2 separate regions of the Homo sapiens genome follow, and region 2 is linked to region 1. Evidence: fine-mapped expression QTL. A gene starts in region 1. The other region holds a variant in brackets. All regions are shown on one strand. Distances are from middle to middle. Region 1 holds the start of MAGOH (mago homolog, exon junction complex subunit). Region 2 overlaps LRP8 (LDL receptor related protein 8).

The links. PIP is the estimated chance that this variant, and not a neighbour inherited with it, causes the effect.
Region 2: its variant is the best candidate, but not a certain one, in a credible set for the expression of MAGOH in thyroid (GTEx, PIP 0.64).

The regions. Positions count from the first base shown.
Region 1 is chr1:53,233,545-53,242,224 of GRCh38, reverse strand. It overlaps MAGOH (mago homolog, exon junction complex subunit), which reads left to right and starts at 3,707. Exons shown (of 5, transcript NM_002370.4): 1 at 3,707-3,864; 2 at 6,590-6,648; 3 at 8,573-8,680. The coding sequence starts at 3,777. It overlaps MAGOH-DT (MAGOH divergent transcript), which reads right to left and starts at 3,615. Exons shown (of 3, transcript NR_038953.1): 1 at 2,880-3,615; 2 at 280-378. RefSeq lists enhancers at 3,696-3,825, 3,866-3,925, 3,413-4,054.
Region 2 is chr1:53,301,408-53,310,061 of GRCh38, reverse strand. All of the region lies in intron 2 of LRP8 (LDL receptor related protein 8), which reads left to right. LOC105378726 (a long non-coding RNA gene) reads right to left here. Exons shown (of 6, transcript XR_007066090.1): 4 at 7,084-7,175; 5 at 2,150-2,270; 6 at 606-664. Among named protein-coding and RNA genes, the nearest start is that of LRP8, 22 kb to the left of the region's middle. RefSeq lists enhancers at 1-261, 262-763, 1,478-2,295. The variant G/A (reference allele first, on the strand shown) is at 4,170.

The DNA of each region.
Region 1 (8,680 bases):
CCACTCCCATTTTATAGATGAGAAAATGGGCAAAGTAACTGCCCAAAGTCACAAGGTTATTTTTAGTGCCCCCAAAGAGCAATTGTACATGTAGCATTCTCTGCCTAAATTTTCCTTCTCTGCCTCCACATGACTAACTCCTATTTGTCCTTGAGTACTCCACTTAGGTAATGCCTCCTCCAGGAAGCCTTCCCTTTTCTCTAAGACTAGGTTAGATAACTCACCTCTGTACTTCGATAACAATTTTTGCCTACTTGCATCCCAATACTTCTGCCTTACCATTCATTCCCATGCCATTGGGGTTGCTTTTGCCAAGGTCATCCAGGACCTCCTCGATTATAAATCTGGTAAACATTTTCAGTCTTGCTCTTCCTTGACCTGGAAGCAGTAGTTAACACTGTTAGCCACTCTTTTCTTGGCATATTCTTATTTTGGCTTCCATGATAACATTTCATGTTTTTTCTCCTATCTCTCTGGCCACATCTTAGTATCCTTTGCCTACCCCTTAAATTATGGTATTCCATCTCAAATCCATCCACTTTTCTATCTCCATTACTTTTTTTTTTTTTTTTTTTTAAGAGACAGGGTCGTACTCTGTTACCCAGGCTGGAGTACAGTGGTAGGATCATAGCTCATTGCAACCTCCGCCTCCTGGGCTCAAGCAATTCTCCTGTCTCAGCCTCCCGAGTAGCTGGGGCTACAGGTGCACGCCACCCTGCCCAGCTAATAGATTACTTAAACTACTTATCTGAATGTCATACTTCTAGTCTTTTCATTTTCCAATCTAACCTACAAGACTGCAGCCAAAGTGTCTTTCTAAAGTACCATAGATGTATCACCACCACTTCTTTCCACTTTCCTGCTTAAAGCTCTTCAACTGCTTTGCTGGCACAAAAATCCAATATTCTTGGGTTTGCCCAAACTCTTTTAATATGGCTTATAAAACCCTTCATGATTTGGCTTCTGCCCTGTCTCCAGCTTCATCACTCACTACTCTATATTCTAATCACACAGTTCTGGGCCTCCGTCTGGAACATTTCCTTCAGGAACATTTCCCTAAGGACCCTGCACTGGATTAGGAGTCACCTCATGTGCTTCCATAGTCCTCTGTGCTTCCTTTATTGGTAATCTTATCCTTACATTGTAATTGCTTGTATGCTCCTTAACTGCCTCCTCTGCAAGCTCTGTGAACAACTGTCTTGCTCAACATTGTATCCTCTCTGCACATGACACTCAGTGGATGCTCAAATAAATGATGCTGAATGCAGGCACTGCAGACACACAGACCATGCTCTTTCAGTTACACCATGTCTCATATCCAGAAACCTGGATTACTTCACAGCCTGACTGGAGTTGTGTGTCCTTTAAATTTCTCAACACTTTTGTTATTTGCCACATCTGAAGATCCCCAGATTCACTTATGATTTTTATAATTTTACTCCTGGAAAATAACCTTGTAGCAATTGCTTAATCCCTCTACATACTTAACTCTAATTACCACCTCAAGATTGTTGTGATGATTCAAAGAACAAGCACAGGTAATCCCATTGACCCTAGGGGCTGACATTTATTAGGTGCTTGATACCTGGTCCCTTTTCTTTTTTTCTCTTTTTTTTTTTTTTTGAGACAGGGTCTTGCTTTGTCACCCAGGCTGGAGTGTAATGGTGTGATCATGGTTCCCTACAGCCTCGACCTCCCAGGCTCAAATTATCCTCCTACCTCAGCCTCCCAAGTAGCTAGGACTACAGGTGTGCACCACCACACCTACCTATTTTTTAAATTTTTTGTAGAGACAGTCTCCTATGTTGCCCAGGCTGGTCTCAAACTCCTGGGCTCAAGTGATCCTCCTGCCTCAGCCTCCCAAAGTGCTGGGACTACAGGTATGAGCCACTGTGTCTAGCCCCCTTCTCGTTTATACAATTCCCTTGTTACCACCCATATCCAGTGTTTTGTAATAAAAATGTCTTATGGTTTTACAGCAATTTAGTTTCCGAGACATTGTTTCTTACAACAGTTCTGCTAGGTGTACATTATTATGCTCATTTTAAAGAGAAGGAAACTGAAGTCTAAAAAGTTGAGTCGGTTCACCTTTGGTTACAATGAGTCATTGTTACACAGGGATTATTTTAACCTGTGTCCAGTGATTTTTCCCCCACCACACCTACTCTACACTCTGCTGCTAATGCTTTTGCAGGGAGAAAAGGACTCCGTGTTAAGACTGAGGGCCGGGCGCGGTGGCTCATGCCTGTAATCCCAGCACTTTGGGAGGCCGAGGCAGACGGATCGCCTGAGGTCGGGAGTTCGAGACCAGCCTGGCCAACATGGTGAAACCCCGTCTCTACTAAAAACAGAAAATTACAAAAATTAGCTGGACATGGTGGCGCATGCCTGTAATCCCAGCTACTTGGGAGGCTAAGGCAGGAGAATCACTTGAACCCAGGAGTTTGAGACCAGCGTGGGCAACATAGGGAGACTTTGCCTCTACAAAAAGTTTAAAAATTAGGTAGGCGAGGTTGCGGTGAACTGAGATCACTCCATTGCACTCCAGCCTGGGCAACAAGAGCGAAACTCCGTCTCAAAAAGAAAAGACTGGGAATAGGAATCAGAGACTGCTGTCCCAACTTACAGAATCGTATACAGTTCTAGCCGCCAGGACCCAAGAATGATGTCATCTCGGCACTGTCTCTAGAACCATTCATTCTTTCTAAGCCTGGAACTTAGATGAGTGAAAGCAGGTTCCTATTACATAATTATGATCTTGATTGCCCTGGGCCTACTCAACTGTAAATTTTTTCCAGAGCCAGAAAGGCTTCACAGAGGACAACTTTACCCTGAAAAGAAAGGACCTCTTTGGTCAGTGGTCCTCAACTCTGACTCACCTGAAAGCTTTACAAAAAGTACCAATGCCCAGGTCCAGCGCTGGAGATTTTAACTGGCTTGGGGTAGAGCCCTGGCATCAGTATTTTTAGAGGCTTCCCAAGTGATTGCAATGTGCAGCCAGGCAGAGAATTACTGCTCGGTAAGTGGGATGACTGGGGAGTGGGAGATCAAATACTCTAACGTCTCCCAGCACCTATTCTAGAGATCAGTGGGGCAGAAAGGTAGAAATAAAAGGTGGAAAGGGATGAAATGGGTAAGTGTGGGTGAATTAGTTCCAGGAAAACGGCAATCTCCACTGTGGATTCAGGGAAGGCGTCACTGAGGAGGGCTTTCTTAACAGTTCAGGTCAGTGGAAGCCAACTTGAGGCACACATCGTGCGCGGCATCCTCCGGGGAGGTCGGGTCATTTCACCCCATTTTACTGCCGAGATGACCTAGGTCCAGAGACGGTAAAGAGCGGTGTACGACTCACACAAGTCGGGGGTCCTGTGAACCGAGGTTGAGCCTGGCGGGCCTTCGGCCCGAGGTCTTTAAGCGAAGTCACCAGACCCGGGGTTCAAAGCCCAGAGGTAGGCAGGCGGCTGGCTCTCCGCCTCAGGCCTGGAGAGAACCCAGGGGTATGAACCTCAACCTCGCTCCCGCGTCCAGCTGGAGGGGCGGAGCTGGCTGGCCCCGCCTCCGGGTTAAACAAAGTTCTTTACAGACTAGGCGTGAGGGGATGTTGCAGTCTTGTTGCCACTTCCGGGCGAAGAGGTTAGCGAGAAGGAACCCCTCCACGCAGCGACGACGGGACCTGACGTCACTTCCGCGCGCCGCCGCAAACGTCAGTGTCGGGCGCAGACGGCGGCAGTGCGGCTTGCTCTTGGAAGTTCAGGCTCGGTTGTCTTTTGGGAGCCATGGAGAGTGACTTTTATCTGCGTTACTACGTGGGGCACAAGGGCAAGTTCGGCCACGAGTTCCTGGAGTTTGAGTTTCGACCGGACGGTAAAAGCAGCCTGCCGCCCGCCGGGAGCGGGGACCAGGCCTGGGGGCCGGCGAGTGGGGAGGCCGAGGGTCGGAAATCTGTGGGGAACTAGAGGAGGGAGGGACTGAGACCTGTGCAGTGCAGATCTTAAAGGAACGCCACTGTGTCTGCTCCACGGGGTCTTTCTATCCATTCAGCAAACGTTGACTGAACGCCCACTGTGTGCCAGGCTCTGTTCCACTCTTTGGGAATACGGCAGCGAAGGTAGACAAACTTCCCCTCTCGTGGAACTTGTGTTTTACTGCCGGGAGAGAGATCATAAACAAAAAGATGATTCCAGATAGCAGTGAGTGGTCAAAAAATAACATGGTAGAATAATTGCTGGATGGGCTGCTTTTAGATAGGTTGGCCATTAGAGAGCTCTCTGTAAAGGGTATATTGCAGCCGAGTCCTAATTAACAAGAAGGGCTCAGCCTTGTGAAGCTCATAAGGAAGACCATTCTACACAAAGGGAATACCAGATGTCAAGGCTGCAGGGCGGGAATGAGCTAGGCGTGTCTCAGGTGGTCAGTGTGGTTGAAGAGTGGTGAGCTGGGAGATAGCAGGAGATGATGTCGGATAGGTAGGTAGGAGCGGCACCTCTTAGGTCTTTATAGACCACGGTAAAAAGTTTGGACTTGGAAGGCCTTTTTTTTTTTTTTTTTTTTGAGACGGCTTTCGCTCTTTTTGCCCAGGCTGGAGTGCAATGGCGCGATCTCGGCTTATTGCAACCTCCGCCTCCCGGGTTCAAGTGATTCTCCTGCCTCAGCCTCCCGAGTAGCTGGAATTATAGGCGCCCACCACCACGCCCGGCTAATTTTGTATTTTTAGTAGAGACGGAGTTTCACCATGTTGGCCAGGCTGGTCTCGAACTCCTGACCTCAGGTGATACGCCCGCCTCGGCGTCCCAAAGTGCTGGGATTACAGGTGTGAGCCACCGCGCCCGGCCGGGCTTGGAAGGTTTTAAGCAGAGAAGAAATGTGATCTCTTCTTGAAAAAGCATTCTGGTTATTGGGTGCGGAATGGGCAAGAGTGGAAACAGGGCTATTGATTAGGAGACTGTTGCAGTTGTCAAGACACGAAAGATGTTGGGGGCCGGGCGCGGTGGCTCAAGCCTGTAATCTCAGCCCTTTGGGAGGCCGAGGTATGCGGATCACTTGAGGTCAGGAGTTCAAGACCAGCCTGGCCAACATGGTGAAACCCCGCCTCTACTAAAAATACAAAAATTAGCCGGGTGTGGTGGCAGACGCCTGTAATCCCAGCTGCTCGGGAGGCTGAGACAGGAGAATCTCTTGAACCTGGGGCGGAGGTTGCAGCAAGCTGAGATAGTGCCACTGTACCCCAGCCTGGGTGACAGAGCAAGACTCTGTCTCAAAAAAAAAAAAAAAAAAAGATACTGGTTGGGACTACAGAGATAGTAGAAATGGAGAGAAAGATTTAGGAAACTGTTGGAGGCAGAACCAACTGGACTTTGATCGTTGATAGGATTTTGTTGGCAGAGGCACTGTGGTGAAGGAAAGAGCAATCAAAGATGACAGAAGACATCCACTAAGTGGGGCACAAAGATGAATCTGACAGGCCTCGACTGTGAGGGAGATAGATTTGTAAGCAGTGATAAAACAGCACATTAGGTGTTGTGGTAAAAAGAAACAGAGGAGGCTCGCAGCAGAGAAGGGTGCACCTAACCAAGCCTGAGGGTCAGAGGAGGCTTCCTACATAAAATGATGGGAGGAGGGGATGTGAGGAATTGGTTAGGAGACGAAGAAGAGTCAAGAAGGCATTTTAGACAGCATGCAAAGAAGCTGAAAACCAAAAAGTGCTTGGGATGTTTCAGGCAGAAACCAAGTAGTTTGACTTCAGCTGTGTGAGAGAAGAATATTGGCAGGAATGAGGCTGGAAAAGCAGGCAGGGGCTTAGCTTAGCTGTATGCCATGTTGAGGAGTTTGGATTTTACCAGGAAGGCAGTGGAAAGCCATTGACTTTATCAAAGTATTAGAGTAACCTAATCTGATAGATCTGTTACCACATCACCTTGTCCACTGTATGGACAGTGAACTGAATGTGAAGAAACTTGAGGCAGAGAGACAGCACAGAGGCTGTTGGAATAAATTCACTGGGCTCATCTCACATGTATGTCTTCTAGTCTACATGTCTTCTATTTCCTTCTGTCTTCTCCTCATCCCCACCATTAATCTGTCAGATGCACACATGGGCAAAGGGTCTTGTGTACCAAATGTGCTCAGTGATAAAAGCAGCAGCTTCTCCATCACAGAAATAGAGTATGGCACAGTCACATGATAATATATGTAAACTGCATCCTACAGTTTTCAAAATGTTTTCACAGCTCATTTGAGCCTCAGGAGGTCCTATGTGTCGGTAAGTTATCAGTTACTAGGCCTGTTTTCAGGACATTCACCTGCAAAAATGTGATTTGACAAAGTCAGAAAAGAGCCTGCCTGTGTTTATACCCCACCTGAGCTGCTTTTTGCAGTAGTTGAGTTTCAGCTGTATATTTGGCTGTTTAAGCCTGAAGTGAAGAACTGAAAAGACTAGTATTGTTGAAATACCTTAAGAGTAAATAATAAATCTGTTAGACACTTTTAGCAAGTTAGATACATTTTGGGCAACTGCTGATGCCTTGGCATGGTATTGATGCTTTATTCATATGTTTTTATTATACGTTGAAATTGTTTTTTGCCCCCACAGGGAAGTTAAGATATGCCAACAACAGCAATTACAAGAATGATGTCATGATCAGAAAAGAGGTATGAGCCTTCTGCCTTCTGAGAGTCCTTCATTTGCTACATTTCAGCTTTTTGTCTTGCATTGTTTTTATTGTTTCTAGTAGTATTGAAAGATAAAGAACAGGGAGAGAGACACATGTCTGTAGACAGCTTCTGGATTATTTCCCAAATCATCTTTTAGTTGGGATTTTTTTATTTTACATTGTGGAATCAATTACTGGTAACCTTTGACATACCTTGGTTTGAACCCTGAGTCTGCTGCTTACTACCCCATGTGACCTTGGGCAAGTTCCTGGCTGAACTTGATAAATCTCTGTTTCTTCACCTGTAAAAACAGGAATAATAAAAGCTACCTCCCACTCCCAAGTGCTGTCATAAAATTAAATATGTTCTATTTAAAGTGCTCTATATTCCCTGTGTACATGGTACACAATGAAGAGCTATTTAATTTACATCTGAGTGGGAAAGGGAGCATGGGAAAGCAGTTGACATCATTGAATGCATGTTAGATGTCAGGCGTGGCATCTTATTTAACCCTGATTGTAAGCCCATGTGATGGGGGAGGGTATTATAGCCCCCTTACAAATAAGAAAATAAAGGCCCAGGTATTAATTATGAGGCTTGTTCTGAGTTACCCCTGCTAGTAAGAGATACAGCAGGAATTCCCAATCCTGCCCCAGTAAAGTTTGTATTCTCCGTTCTGTGATTTCTACTACATCATTAAGGCTTCATCAAAGCTACTCTTTCCTTTTAACCACTTTGCCACCTTTGAAAATGTCTTAGCATATATTTTCATATTGTTATTTTAGCTATTGATTTTATGCTTATTCACACATGTCAATATCCTCACTATTTTTTTACACAGGCATATCTTTTAAAATACATTTTGCTCCTCAGGAGTGTATTACCTAGTTAAGAATAACTGGCCGGGCGCGGTGACTCACACCTGTAATCCCAGCACTTTGGGAGGCCGAGGCGGGCGGATCACGAGGTCAGGAGATCGAGACCATCCTGGCTAATACGGTGAAGCCCTGTCTGTACTGAAAATACAAAAAAATTAGCCAGGCATGGTGGCGGGTGCCTGTAGTCCCAGCTACTTAGGAGGCTGAGGCAGGAGAATGGCATGAACCCAGGAGGCAGAGTTCGCAATGAGCCGAGATCGCACCACTGCACTCCAGCCTGGGCGACAGAGCAAGGCTCCGTTTCAAAAAAAAAAAAAAAAAAGAATAACCAGGGCATGTGGGTGTCGCAGTCTCTTTTTTGCTGCAACAAAATGCCTGAGACTGGGTAATTTGTAAGCAGTAAAAATATATTTCTCACAATTTTGGAGGCTGGAAAGTCCAAGATCAAGGCGCTGGCAAGTTCAGTGTCTAGTGAGGGCCCAGTCTCTGCTTCCACAACTGTGCCTTGTTTTTGCATCCTCCAGAAGGAATGAATGCTGTGTCCTCATATGGTGAAAGAACAAGAAAGGGGCCAGCTAGTTCCCTTAAGCTCTCTCCTAAAGCACTAATCTATCCCTGGGGCCTCTGCCCTCAAGGCCTGATCACCTCCTAAAGGCCCTATCTCTTAACACTGTTGCTTTGGGGATTAATTTCAGTATGATTTTTTTGGAGGAGACAAAAACATTCAAACCATGGCAGGGGGCACTCACAGACCTGTTTTGGGTTTCGTTGTGAGTTGGGTATGTGGGCAGGCAGAAGGGCCATGTGAACAGGATGTACCAGGAGGTAGTAACAGCTAGATAGGGGACTGAGGTGCAGTTACTGGATACTTCTGACCGTGTCCCTCACCTGCATCATGCCGAGGTTGAGCATGAATGTCTTCCCACTTAAGGAGATGCCAGAAATAAGTCTGCAGGAACAGTTATTTTTATCTTCCATCACTATCTGAGTCAAAGCACTGCTTAAGGATACAACATACATTTTGTTTTTTAACTTGCGTTCAGGCTTATGTACATAAAAGCGTGATGGAGGAACTGAAGAGAATAATTGACGACAGTGAAATTACCAAAGAGGATGATGCATTGTGGCCTCCTCCTGACCGAGTGGGCCGG
Region 2 (8,654 bases), 68 kb before region 1:
TCCGGGGCAGAGCTCAAGGCCGCTAAACTGACAGGAAAGGTCAGTCCAGTGATCCGAGACGTGCAGGGTTATGGCTGGGGGCGTGGGGACTCCCATCTCTGGTGAAGCGTCGGGGTAGGTGGGTGGGGCTGGGCTTCCTTTCTGCTGCTGCTCAAAGTTGGTTCTGCTCAGAAGCATCCTCCCATTCATATGAATAACGGCGATCACTGATGATAAATGAAGGTGTGCCTGCCCCGTGCCAGGGCTGGGCTGGGTGCCCTGGGGACAGCTGAGAGGAGTCGGAGGTGGAATCCATCCTGAGAGCAGGGGCACAGCTTTCACCACCTTTATCTCATCCCCGGAGCCTGACACAGGCTGGGCCCTCAGGGGGCAGCTTAGTAATGCCTTAGTCATTGAAAAACAGGGACCTGGCCTCTCTGACGAGATGCCCACTGTCCAAGGGTACACTGGTCCACAGCATGGCCCCGCAGCCTGACCTCTCCCCTCACCGTGGCTCTCTGGATCCTTCAAGGGGCTCCTGCCAGTGACTGTAGTGGGTGACTGGAGCCTCTTCCCCCAACGTCACACAGCATGTGGGCTGGATGAGCCACCTCCCCTCTCAGTGTCTTGGTTTCCTCTTCTGCACAGGGGCGTCTTGGCAGGCCCTACCTCAAAGGGCTGTTGGCTGGGAAGATTAAATGAGATGATGAGCCCCACGCACTATCATCAATGACGCTTATGCTTATGGGGAGTGGGGTGGGAAGCACCTCTGCTCTCCATGCATGACTTCATGAATTCTTTTTTTTTAAAGATGGAGTCTCACTCTGTCGCCCAGCCTGGAGTGCAATGGCATGGTCTCGGCTCACTGCAACCTCCGCCTCCTGAGTTCAAGTGATTCTCTTGCCTTAGACTCCCAAGTAGCTGGCATTACAGGCGCCTGCGACCATGCCCAGCTAATTTTTGTATTTTTAGTAGAGATGGAGTTTCATCATGTTGGCCAGACTGGTCTCGAACTCCTGACCTCAGGTGATCTGCCCGTCTCAGCCTCCCAAAGTGCTGGGATTACAGGTGTGAGCCACCGTGCCCGGCCCATGGATCCTTTAACAGCCCTCTGAGGGGGGATCTGTCCTGTCTCTTTACTGATAGAGATGGTGAGGCACAGAGAGGTGGGGAAACACCCAGGGTCACGTAGCATAGGAGTGGCAGCAGCAGGATTTAAAAGCGGGTCTCTTGCACTCCAAGGTCCACGTGTTAGCCAGTGCACCAGGCAAGGGATAAAGGACTTAGTGTGAGAGCTCCTTTGGAATTGGAGTTGCAGAGGCTCTGGCTTCCTGTGCTGATCTCCTGCAAGCCTCCAGCCCCCAGTCACGTCTGTCAGCAGCTCTGAGAGCCCTCCTTGGGCCTCTCACCTCCCACATGAGCAGGGAATCAGCAGGCAAGGTCCGGGCGGTGAGGATGGGGGATTTCCCGACTCACTTGAGATCCGTCACATTAATGTTAATTAAGCCTTGTTAATTCAGCCCTCTGCTTACACATGGCTCCTGACAGCAAATTGCTCATAAGTGAGGCAGTAAATTTATTGCTGCTTTTTCCAAACATTTAGCAGCAAAGACGGTGCCCCAGGAAAGGCAGAGGAGAGACCTGGAGGGCCAGTGATGCTTGGTTCCTGCTAGCCTGAACCCCCCAGGATCCTCATGGCCTAGAGAATAAGGTGGGGCTCCCCAGGAGACCTGGGTGAGAATGAAATTCTGGCCTGCTCGGAGCATACTGCCTGGAGATGCGGTGAGCACTGTCTCAGCACTAACTCTCTGGTAGCTCTGTGCTCTGTGAACATCCCGTTCCCTGCGCTGTCCTCCCACAGTGCCTTGAAGTGTGCCCTGCACAGTAGGGCTCAGCAAAGGTGTGTTTGGATTTGGATGTGCAGCCCCGAGCCCACCTCCATGTCAGGAAAGCCTCGCTGCAGTGCAGTCTGATAGGAGAGCCAGCAGCCTCCGCAGGGACTGAGCGCCCTGCATCCTGAGGTGTGCACCTGGGGCCAGACCACTCCGCCAGGGCTGCTGGGAAGGGGTCTCTCCCTGTCCTGGGTCATAGGAGCACTGTTGGAACCAGGATCAGGCTCAGATTCTGGGCCTGTGACCCCAGCCCCTTGCTAGGCTAGGTATCTACTCACCAGGTGAGGGGGAAGCCTCTCCTGGGTATAGTGGGACACCCTCGTCCTAGGTCCTGCTTCCCGCCTTGGCCTCAGACTGGGTCGTGCCTGGACCAATTGAACAAACCCAGGCTTTGGGTACCTAGAATTTTAAAAAATTAATTAGAGCATTAAATGGCAGCCCTCTGGGAGAATCCCACCATCTGGCTGTCATGGGAGAGGCAAGAAAATCTATGCATATTTGTCTGCAGTGTGTGAGCATCATATGAAGCCAACTGTGCATGTGTGGGTATGCGGTCTGTGTGCTGCAGTGTGTGTCCAGCATGACATGCGTGTCTGAGTATGTTCAGTATGTGGCGCACACCTGAGTGTGCAAGTGGGTGGTGTGTGCCTTGCTGTATGCACGGGTGCCCATCTGCAAGTACATGCGCTGTGTGCATGTGCCTGAGTGTCTGCACGTCTGTCTGAACATACCTCTGTGTGTGGTCCATGCTCAGGCCTGCCTTTTTGGTGCAGTGAGCCAGGCTGAGCTGTGTGCAGATAGGGAAGGGGCTCGTGACTCCTCCTGGCTGAGGTGGTGGGCACAGACAGCTGTGTAGAAGGTGGGACGGGGTAAGTGTGGCAAGTGCACAGCTGGCCTTCAGTGGGTGAGGCAGGGCAGGCATCCTTGCCCTCATTTGACAGATGGGAAAACCCAAAACTGGAGCCTGGGCTCTGGGGCTCCCTGCGTGGTGCTCTTTCTGTTCCAGCGGGCTGCTGCCCTGGCTGGCACCTATGCTTTTGGCATCTTTATGCTGTTAGATTTTCATGGTGGCTCAAAGTGGTTCTGAGAGAGTACCACCCCCCCTACTCAGTATTGCTCAGGGGGCAAGGTCAGGATTCCCACTGCACATCCTGTGTTCTTCCTGTTTCAAGGAGGAGATATCAGGGCTGCTGGAGAATGCTGGGCCTGATAGTCCTCTGACTGCTGTGTGACCTGGGCCCATCCTGTCCCTCTCTGAACCTCAGGGGTGATTGTAAGAACTAAATGAGGAGACATATACAAAGGGCTTCGTAAACCAGGAGATGAGGTGAGGTGATGTAGACAGATGAGGGCCTGGCCCAGAGATGGCATCACAATACGATCAGAGCCAAAGCTGAGGCCCAAGTTCATGTGTCCCAGGGTTTCCTGAGGAGCAGGCCAGGAGGTGGGACCCAGGACAGAGGCAGGTGCCCTCCCAGCCTTGCAGACTCTGAACCTGTCCTCAGAACCATCTGCCTGGTGCCAGCACTCTCCTCCAACTCCAGCCCCAGACACATGGCTCATGGCAGTGAAGTAAAGCAGGAACAGACCCAGGGAGCAGTGGGATCCAACCCCTCAACTGGTGTTGACGCTGAGGCCCAGAGAGGGGGAGTGGCTTACTCAAAGCCACGCAGCAGCTCGGGGGGTAGAGCTGGGACCAAAACCCAGGCCTCCTGGCCCCTGGCTCTGTTCTCCTTGGTACCATACCACTGTCTTTGGCAAGAGAAAGAGGACACAAGAGCTAGTTCACATGCCTGGAGAAAAGGATGTGGGAGTGCCACCCAGCTAGACAGCACTAGAACAGACCAGAGCCCCACTTCCTGCATGAATGGAGGATCTGAAGCAAGGCTTCAATGATTACTGCTTTTCCTAGGTATGCAGAATGCTGGAGGGTAAATAGGGTTTGTGTCCTGGGCTGTACATTCTGTATAGATGGAAAAGCCCCAGGCTTCCAGATTGCCTGCATGCGATGCCTTCAGCACACGCTTCCTCAGTGCCTGCCTCCACCGAGCTGCTAGTCTGGTAGAGAAAGATGGTTGAGTGCCACCAACACAGGATGATGAGGCTGTGGATCAGAAGAGGTCTCTGATCCCACATGGGGTCGTGGAAAGCTTCCCAATAGAATAGAGAAGGGGAGGAGGGTCCTCCACTCCCAACTCCCAGAGAGTGAGGAATGTGTGCGCCTCAGACACCCTGGCCCCCTGGCAGTCTGGGCCTCATAAGAGCTCATGCTTGGGCAGGCTCACCGTTCACCCTGGA[G/A]TGGGTGGCTGGGTGCCTTCCAGCTTCCTCCTCAGCGCCTCTCCTGTGCCAGGGCCCATGCACGTGGGTGGAGGAGAGGCCATTCTAGAGGCCCCTGGCTCCCTGTGGGGCTGAGGAGAGACTAGTGTGGGGGCAGGGGTGGAGGTGCAGGGAAGCTGGTGGCCAGACCTCCTGTGACCTCCACTCATTGCCTGTGTGTCCAGGTGGGCCAGTCTCAGCTGCCCCGCTTGGCGTTATAACCATTGTGGTGTTAGCCAGGGACGAGGCTTCTGAAGTAGCCTGCACTGTGAGCCCCGCTGGCTGCCAGGTAATAATTCCACCCGCCTTGACCTTTTTCTCCAAGGAACAGGCCTTCTACTTTATACATGGAGAAAACAAGTCACAGAAGAACCAGGTGGCCCAGGATGACAGAGGCTAGGCCTCCAGATGCCCTTTAAAAATTGCAACAAAAACCTCTTAAGGACTCACTGTGTACAAAGCCTGGTGGTGGGGCTGCCACAGCGGCTGGGATAAAGGGAGGAGGAACTTCGGTCACTGAATATTTTCTGTGTGCCATCCCTTATGTCGGGCACTGATAGACGTGATCTAGCAACCAACTGCCCTCCGAGTCAGGATCTACCACCACATTTTTAAATGAGGAAACATGGGCTCAGAGCGGTCAGGTAGCCTGCCTGAGGTCGCTTAGCTAGTAAGGGACAAAGGCGTGATTTGAGTCCTGCGTTCCTTCACCTGTTTTTGTGGGAGAATGGCCATGTCAGGCAGCAGACTGGGATCTTCCAAACCTTAGTTCTGGGAGGAAGGTTCACTTGCAGGAAAAACCAAGGTGAGTGGAATCATCTTCAGGCAGCCAGCAGTGCTCACTGGGCAGGCTGTTTAAAAGTGGCTTCCTCTTCAAGCTGTAGTGGGACCTGTCTTACTGGGGGAGCCATGCTGGCTCAGAACCCCTAGGCTGATGGGCACCCCTCTGTAAGGGGCTCTGAGAAGTGGCCGGTGTGGCTGAGGTCTGGGCCAGGATGCCAGTGGGCGGTGAGGGTTTGCTGGGCACATGACCCCACACCTTTCCTCTTCTTGCCTCCCACAGCCATGTCTGTCCCCTTCTGCCCAGCTCTGGTTGGAGGTGCTGAGCTGGGGCTTGTGGCCATGAACCATCCCCATACTGCTGGCCCTGGGGCTGGCCTCAGATGGGTGGGTGGTCCCGGCCAGAGCCCTGAACCCCGGCCCTGCCAGAACCAACACCTGGAGACATGGCCACCTCCGAAGGTCTTACCTAACTGCAGGGCGTGCCAGCATCTAGCAGGGTCCCTCACGCACAGTTGGCCTGCTGCTTGATTATTTTGGCTTCCAGCAGCAGAGACCTGAGACTTTCCCGGTAGCATAGGAGTCAGCAGAAGCTTGGCCTTCCCAGAACATGGGACCAGAGGAGGTGTCCTGGACAGGGCCAGGTGAGGGGAGGCTGCTGGTGGCCCCTCACTGAGCCTTTCTGCAGTGGGCCTGGGGACCCCCTCTGCCCTGAGCATTTGCCAAGCAGTCCAGTGGCTGCGCGTGGGCCTGCCTTTCCTCCCCCACTTTGGCATGGCTGTCTCCCAGGAAACGGGGAATTTTCCCTCATTCCCATCATTAGGGTGCCAGGGCAAACAAACAGTCTAATCCAGATGAGCCCTGGGCCACAATCACACTCTCTTTGGGGGTTTTCTCTTCACTTGGAGCAATGTTGAGAAGGCTGGAGTAATTGGTATTCCACCCAGGTTAATAGAACTGCTGCCTCCTCGGTATTATGCCTTAATTTCCTTTATCGCTCAGCAAGTTGGAATTCATCGCCCCTTTCCTTTCTTTTTCCCACCGAAACCTATCACCAGCCTGTCTGCTGGGTAAAGTCATTTCATGGCAGCTCTTGGCTCCTTTCCACTTCCCTGGGAGTCTTTCTGACCGAGCCAAAGAACAAGGAGGGGTGAAAAATCCATTTGTACAAAGTGGGGATCTCCTGTTGAGAGCTTATTTCCCTCCCCGTTCAAGAGGAAGGAACGTGTTCAGCCTCCAGCCAGCACGGCTGACTGAGTCCCCTGTCGCTGAGAGCATTCAAGAGGGCGAATGGCCATATGTCAGCGGTGGGAACAGAGGATTCCAGCACTGGTGGGGGTTGGGGGAAAGGGGCAGGCCTTTGCCACTCCTGGTGCCTGGATTAGATTAGAAGCTTCTAGGGTTTTGTTCTGTTTGTGAGTCTAAGATTTGTGATTTAAAACTGGAAAGATTCTGTGGCTCCTTGGTCCTAACGTTCAACGGAATGAGCCTAAGTACTTGTAAATTGTGTGTTTTACGATTCTCAGATCCTGAGACAGGGAGATTCTGTTCTGTGATTCGAAGACTATCTTATGATTCCTCCAGTCTCTTCAGCGGCAGTTTTGTTCCTGACTGGGTCTTGGGAGGAGTGCAATTGCTTTGCTGAGGTTGCCATGGGAGCGCGAGGCTGCTGTGGCCCCTTTTCTCATGTATGAAATCCAAGGGCTGGGCCACATGGCCCTGGGGCCCAGGTGTGTTCAGCCTGCAGCCCCCTTGGCTCCACCAGAGCCTCCCACAGGCCCTGTGAGGACTGGCTGCTCCCCACCACCTCACTGGACCCAGATGCTTTTCCAGCTAAGCCATGCCCCTTGCCTGTCTGCCCCCGGCCCTCTCCCATTCGAACGGGGAGGCAACCCAGCTCTCCCCAAAGTCCCTGTAGGAAAGCTGGAGCAGTGGGGGAGTGGTGGTGGTAAGAAATAAGCCGCATGATTGACAAGAGCTCTACCTGCTTTTGTGGTGATGTGCAATTTCACCATGAATTTCAACATTACAACCTCTCTTAATTCCCACCCTCTGAGGTGGTTAGCCCCATTTTATTGTTGAGGAAGCTGAGGCTCTGAGAGGTTAAGTCACTCACCTATAATCATACAGGTTGTTCCCAGGCCCTGACTCTGGATCACCTGCTGTAGTACGGCTCTAGGCCGCCTGGGCAGCATGATGAAACTGTCTCTACAACAAAAATCCAAAAAAAAAAAAAAATTAGCTGGGTGTGGTGGTGCACGCCTGCAGTCCCAGCTACTTGGGAAGCTGGGGTGTGAGGATGGCTTGAGCCTGCAAGGTTGAGGCTGCAGTGAGCTGAAATACTACTGCACTCCAGCCTGGCCAACAGGGAAACCCTGTCTCCAAAAAAAAAAAAAAGGCATTGATTGGCCCAAGGTCATATGGCTTGAGGCAGGACCAGAACCCAGGTCATCTCATTCCTAATGCAGTGCAAGCAAAGGAAAAAGCGAGAGGTGGACATTCATCATAGAGTCTATAGCCAAACTGAGGAACAAAAACCCTGGGTGTAACAGCCACAACCCAGAACAAAAGGAGATGGGTCTTGGTTAGACTCCGGGGTGGTGACGTCACTCATCTCCCCTCTCTGGGCCTCAGTGCCCCGGCTGTAAAACAAGGACACCGACCTTGGTGGTCTCCAAGCCCACATCATGTTAGGTTCCGGTCTAACGTGAGCCCGAGGCTGGGAATCTGCTTGTTGGGTGGGGGTTGTGGACCACACGCTTACACCTCCCTGTTGGAACCAATCCTGGGGCGGTTAAAGAGCTTCAGAGAATGGACCCCATTTCCTTCCAAACGCACTGAGAAGCCAGAAGCAGCCTTCTCCATCTGCTTTCAGAATCCACCTTTTCCTTCTGGATCAAACATAGTTCCTCGGGGCAGGCTTCCTCAGCCCCTACTACTGCCAGCCAAAATCACCCCCTTTCTTTGAGGACCAGCTTAAAATGTCTCTCTTCCAGGCAGTGAGCCCTCCCCAGGCCTGCCTCCTCTCCCTCCAGCAGACCTTACTCACAGGCAAGGGAGATGCAGGCTTGGAGACCACCAAGGTCAGTGTCCTTGTTTTACAGCTGAGGCACTGGGGTCCAGAGAGGGGAGATGAGTGACGTCACCACCCCAGAGTCTAACCAAGACGCATCTCCTTTTGTTCTGGGTTGTGGCTGTTACACCTGGGGTTCTCCTTTCCTCAGTTTGGCTATAGACTCTCTGAAGGAAGGTCCACCTCTCACTTTTTCCTTTGCTTGCACAGCATTCGGGATGAAACAACCTGCGTTCTGGTCCTGCCTCAAGCTACATGACCTTGGGACAATCAATGCCTTTTTTTTTTTTTAAGACAGGGTTTCCCTCTGTTGCCCAGGCTGGAGTGCAGTAGCATGATCATGGCTCACTGCAGCCTCAACCTCCCGGGCTCAAGCCAGCCGACCACCCCAGCCTCCCAAGTAGCTGGGACTGCAGATGTGTACCACCATGCCCAGCTAATTTTTTTTGGTATTTTTGTTGTTGTAGAGATGGGGTTTCACCATGTTGTCCAGGCTGGTATTGAACTCCTGGGCTCAAGTAATCTGCCTGCCTTGGCCTCCCAAATTTCTGGCATTACAGGCGTGCGCCACCATGCCTGGCCAGTTCATGCCTTTTAAGGTCTTTGCTTCCTAA